2 separate regions of the Homo sapiens genome follow, and region 1 is linked to region 2. Evidence: fine-mapped expression QTL. A gene starts in region 2. The other region holds a variant in brackets. All regions are shown on one strand. Distances are from middle to middle. Region 1 overlaps MORN1 (MORN repeat containing 1). Region 2 holds the start of TTC34 (tetratricopeptide repeat domain 34).

What was found.
Region 1: its variant is fine-mapped to the expression of TTC34 in aorta (GTEx, PIP 0.98).

What each region holds. Positions count from the first base shown.
Region 1 is chr1:2,341,091-2,343,986 of GRCh38, reverse strand. The region is part of intron 10 of MORN1 (MORN repeat containing 1); the gene reads left to right. Among named protein-coding and RNA genes, the nearest start is that of MORN1, 49 kb to the left of the region's middle. The variant A/G (reference allele first, on the strand shown) is at 1,521.
Region 2 is chr1:2,800,185-2,803,080 of GRCh38, reverse strand. TTC34 (tetratricopeptide repeat domain 34) reads left to right here and starts at 1,388. Exons shown (of 9, transcript NM_001242672.3): 1 at 1,388-1,504; 2 at 2,213-2,896. The coding sequence starts at 2,254.

The DNA.
Region 1 (2,896 bases), 460 kb after region 2:
TGGCCCCAGCCCCAGGCCCAGTCCCGCCTCAGTCACCCCCACAGCTGGCAGCAGGGGAGGCCTACGGGAATCCCGCCCAGCAGACATGGGACCACGGTTTCCTCCATTCTCTTCCGGAAGAATGGGGCCGTGGATTGTTCATCGTTTTGCTAAAAGAAGTCCAAACCCCAAGCCAGAGGCGGGTGCCATGGTGTTTAGAAGCCTGGGGAGGCAGCCAGTCCCCGGGAAAGCTGGCCTCTGCGGCTGTGCGTCCTCCTGCCACCCTGTGAAGCTGCTTCCAAGGCTCCGCGAGGCCTCTGTCTATCTGAGAGCCCAGGACAGCTGTGGCAGGGTGGCTCCTGGCCTGTCCTCCCCAGGAAAGCTTCAGAACAGCTCGTGGGAATGCAGTGGAGGTGAGGAGAACCCTGAGGACAGCAGCCGCAGGGAGCCCCGGACCTTGGCCAGGCCCCCAGGCCCGAGTCTCAGTCCTCGAGGGGCCACTGCTGCTCAGCACAGCACCCCCAGAGGATCAGGAGCAAGATGAGGGGCCTGCCCCACACCCGCCTGGCTGGAACGGCACCCGCCTGGCCCCGGCAGGGCTGGTGCCCCGCAGCGTCATCCCCAGGGCCCGGCGGCTCTGTCACAGGGCCCAGCGGCTCTGGCAGCTACACAGACAGCTTTGTGGGGGGCTCCTGGAGGCGAGGAGCGGGCGGGCACGGAGAGAGCCCAGAGCAGTCCTGTCTTGGCAGCTTTACCAGCAGAGGTGCCCGCAGGTCCCAGAGGCAGGTCTGAAGGCAGCAGTGGAGAAACGTCAGCATCATGCTTGCCAAATACGCAGGAGCAGCCACGACGGCCCAGGCCCCAGGAGCTCTGGAGTGTCTTTTATTTTCTGAACGTTCAGGAAGGATGGAGGCTACTGGAGATGGAGGCTTAGGGTCAAGCGCATTTTCTATGCCTCAGGAAAGGCAGGGGAGCTGGCGCGGGGCCACGCCCGTGATCCCAGCACTTTGGGAGGCTGAGGCGGGAGGATTGCTTGAACTCAGGAGTTCAAGGCCAGCCTGGGCCACAAAGGGAGGCCCCATCTCTATGATTAAAATAAAATAAAATAAAATAAAATAAAATAAAATAAAATAAAATAAATAAAATAAAATAAAATAAAATAAAATATAAAATAAAATAAAATATTTAAAAAGGCAAAGGAAAGGCCAGCCCAGGTCCCTTCTCGGTGACAGTGCTAGGGCCCATGCTGGCTCTGCTGAGGGAGGCCAGGCACAGTGCTGGCCCAGCCTACACCTCCTCGTGGATCTTGGGTGGCTTGGGTCAGCAGAGCCATGTCTGCGGTGTGGGAGGTGAGAAGGGTGAGGGAGGTGAGGACGAAGCCCGGGGCTGGGGACAGCAGGGGAGTCCGAGAGGCCCCCCATGTGTCTTGTGTGCCCCCGCGTGTTCCCGCTGACTTCTCCAGGCCCCACCCTGCGTCTCTAATGAGCCGCGCTTCTCGGCTGACTGATGGACTCTTAAAGACTAATGCCCTGTGTCTGGTC[A/G]CCTCCAAACGAGACTGTTCTCGTCCCCTTAGGGCCAATAACGTTTTATGTTTTTAATCCACTTAAACGAAGTCAACGTTTCTGCTTCGGCCTGCCCTCCCCCTGGCCAGGTCCTGCGCCTGCCGCGGCTATTCTTGGGGCTGGCCTGGCCCGAGCAGCCTTGTTGATTCGGGCAGCATCCCTGCCTGCTGCCTGGTGCCCTACACAGGTGACTAGGGAGTCTAATTGAGTCCGCCGTAAAAAGATAATGAATTGGAATTTCCCTCCAGAGCGGTCAAGCTGCCCGATCCCGTCCCGGGCTGGCTCAGCCTCTCGGTTCCCGAGGCCCCCGAGGTCGTACGGTGACCTTTATCTTGCTTATAAAGCTGTAACTGATGTCATTAAAACTGGCATAAAGGCTTGGAAGGCACTCCTGAGAGCTGGGGAGGGGCATGCCTGCCAGGAGGTGACAAGCATGGCCTTGGCTCGGGAAGTGCCCCAGACACTGCCGGGGACCCTCACTCTCCATCACGAATGGTTCCTCTGGGGCCCGTGGAGCCCAGAGTTTGATGAGCTGACACATCCATCACAGAATGTGTCTCCCTGAGCCTTGGAGTGAGGCCCACTCGGGCTGGCGGGCACCACTCAGACGGGGAAGAGAGGATCTCCACTGACGGTGGGCGCTGCGCTGTCCGAAGGTGTCTCTGCACCTCGGCTTTTCTGAGTTTAATGCCTTTGGGGGGCACTTGCCATCAGACTTTTAGCCTTTTCTTTTTCTTTTTTTTTTTTTTTTTTCTTGAGACGGAGTCTCGCTCTGTGGCCAGGCTGGAGTGCAATGGAGCGATCTTGGCTCACAGTAACCTCTGCCTCCCGTGTTCAAGCGATTCTCGTGCCTCAGCCTCCCGAGTAGCTGGGATTACAGGCACCTGCCACCACACCTGGCTAATTTTTGTATTTTTAGTAGAGACGGGGTTTCACTATGTTGGCCAGGATGATCTCAATCTCCTGACCTCCTGATCCGCCTGCTTTGGCCTCCCGAAGTGCTGGGACAGGCATGAGCCACCACGCCCGGCCCCTTTTAGCCTTTTCTTTTCAGTGGTTTGGCCTAATGGGAGCAAGTTTGCAGACGGGGGCATGAGCAGGGTGATGCCCAGGAAGGGGGTGATGTTGGGGGGCAGGTACACTGTGACCAGCAAGTTGGCTCGGCCAGGCACCTGGCCATCGCACGGTCAGCAGCATGCCCAGGACCAGTTGGGGACCGCTGGGGACAAGACAGGGAAGTGTGCTCTGCTGGGGACAGATCCACAAAGGGGAAGCTGGGCAGCAGGCAACAGGTGGGACACAGCAGGGCTGGGAGAGGCTCCGTCGGGAGGAGCCACCAGACCGAGGTGGTGTGG
Region 2 (2,896 bases):
CCACCTCTGTGCCCCGGGCTCTTCTACAGCCCTGGTGACAGCCCCACTCCATTACAGCTCTCGCCTAATTAGGGCAATTAAAATGAAAGTAATCAACACCGAGTAATGGGCAATCTCTTAATAAACTGCCCCCACTGCATTACCCGCACAGGCCTTGGGCCCTGGTGAATGTCATGGAGCTGAAGAACTGGGCCAGGCAGCCCCAGCCCTGCTGACCCCCCTGCCCTGCACCCTCAGACTGACCCTGACTGCTCTGCCCACGCTGCAGGGGCTCCACACCCTCCCCAAAGGGCCTGCGGGGCATGTCTCAGGAGACCCAGACATCGAGGGGATCAGGGATGCCACCCCCCACTCCCAAGATCTCCTCCCCCAAAGGGCACCCCCAACCCTGCTTCCCTGAGCCCCACAGAGGAGCCAGCATTGGCCTGGTGTCCGGGCACCTTGGCATCCTGAATTGGGAGGGACCTCTCTCAGGGACGCACCACCCCCATTCCCCCCACTCATGCCTGCCCTCCAGGGCAGCTGCCGGTGGTGGGGTCTCAGCTTCAGGGACCTGAGCCTGCCTCCAGCCACCCCACTCAGTCTTTCTGCTCCTGCGGCATGGGCTGACGGTGGCCACGGGCTGAAGGTGATGTTTCCTAAAATAGTCCCTATGCTGCCACCCCTTCCTCAGCAACAATCAGGGTCCCTGGGCAGTAGGCTCAGGTCATGGCTCCCAGAGCTGCCTCTGGGCCTCAACCCTGTGATGGGGGAGGGGTGTGCCCTCGGCTAATGTGCCCTGCCCTCCCCAGGGCACAGCTGGCTCAGCTGGTGCAGGCAGGACAGGGCTGCCTAAGCCTCTCAGAGGGAGGACGGCCAAGGGAAATGGGCTGGCTGTGCACGGAAGGTCCAGTCCCAGCTGCCGGCACAGGGAACAGCCTGTGGGGAGGTGCCCCAGGACCGGGTGACAGGGCCCTGCCAGAAGAGGAGTGAGGCTGGGCGGTGAGGGGCCCGCATAGCAGCCCAGGCGGAGTTCTGGGGGACAAACCCAGAGCCTGAGTGCACTGGGTGGGCAGGCGGCCCCCACCTGCCTCCAGGAAGCGCCCTCCTCATCTATGTGGAGAGGAGGCTGGGGGCACCCTGGCAGAGCAGGCAGGGTGGAGGCTGGCCCCGGCTATGGGGGGCTGTACCCCACAGGCCCCTTCTCCCCCAACACCCCCATGAACTCAGGGTTCTCTGCTCTGAGGCAGCCCATTGGAGCCTGGCTGGGGCAGTGTGGGTGGGACCTCGGCCTGGTAGCCTCTGGCCACAGCGGGGCGCTGCAGGACAGCCAGGAGACCCAAGGGTGTTGACACTCTCCCGGGAAACCGCAGGCTGTGCCTTCCCCAACCCACACGGGGCGGTCATAGGAGCCCCACCCAGGCCTGGGCCCTCCAGCCAGCCACATCCCTCTGTCCCCCACCACCCACGAGGGAATCTGGGTCCCCAGGGCACAGCCGGCTCAGCCTCCAAGCTGCAGACGAGTGTGAGTGTGTCTGTGTGTGTCTGAGAGCGGATGCTGGGGGCTGCCTGTTTGATGAGGGAAGAAAGGGCTGTGCGGAGCTAGTTCGTCAGGTCAAGTAGCTTGGGGACAGGGAATAGGGGAGTACCAGGGGCTGTCCCTGGAACCTCAACCTCAAAACTGAACCCCCCCACCCATGGGCTGGGGTGGCTCCCCCGACCCAAGGGCCTGGCAGGTGCTCTCGGCGCCCCCCTCGAATGGCCCAGGTGTGAGAGGGTGGGCAGGGGTGTGGTCCTGCGTCCCACTGAGAGGGCTGCCTGGACTGACGGGGGGTGTGCCTTCCTGAGGGGCTCAGGGTTGGGAGGGGCAGAGGGTGGGTCCGGGGTTCCTATTGCTGGGCCCTGACACCTCGGGCCACCGTAACCCTCCCGACATGGACACTCAGGGGTCAGATGTTCTTAGAGGGAACTGAGCTGGGGGAGGCCACTGTCCCATTCTGCAAGGCACGAAACTGAGGCCCCAGAGGTGAACAGTGGGCTGGAAGTTGGCCTGGGACACCTGGTAGGCCCCACCCCACCAGCCCAGGATCCCCCCAGTTTTCACCCAGTGGGGTCTGCACTGACCGTGGGGTCAATGGGAAGGGGTGGAGGTGGCTTGAGGCTGGGCACGGGTGGCCACAGGGCAGGAGAACTGGCCGCCCTCTGTGGACTCACCATGCTCCCCCACCCCCAGGTACTCTGAGGACCAGACATGGGCCCGTCGGGGTCCCAGACATGATGTCAGCCCAGGAGCTCGTGGCCTGCCTCTGCCGGGAGGGGGAGCAGCATCTGGCGCTGGGGGAGCTGCCCCTGGCCACCGCCTTCTACCTGGCTGCATTCAGCTGCCACGCCCCCTCAGCCCTGCAGAGTGTGCGCACTGCCCTGGCCCAGGCTCGGGGGGCGGCGGTGGTGGCCACCCTGGAGTCCTGGTGCCGCGGGGACAGCCAGATCCCCGCCATCCACTGGGACGGCATGGCAGTGGTCTCCCTGACAGGGTCGCTGGCCTCTGCCTTCCTCGGCGCCCTCTGCCCGGACCACCCCGCCGCCATCCTGCACCTGCTGGCAGGTCTGCTGGCCCGCGGGCGTCACGAAGAAGTGGTGCAACGCTGCAGCGCCCTGCTGGACTCTCATGCACAGCAAGTCCTGGAGCTGCGGCTGACCCGCGCCCTCGCCTGGGTCCTGTCCGGGGTGCAGGCAGCGGATGGTGTGGCCGCCTATCTCCAGGCCTTCGCCTCCAGCGCCGACCGGACGGTAGCTTTCATTCGCACCCACCAGCGGCCCCACCTCCCCGCGCTGCTCAGTGCCCTCCAGGACTACCTCTCGGGGCACCCGGAGGCTGGGCACAGTGCCGGCCAGCAGGAGACCGGTGGCCAGCGAC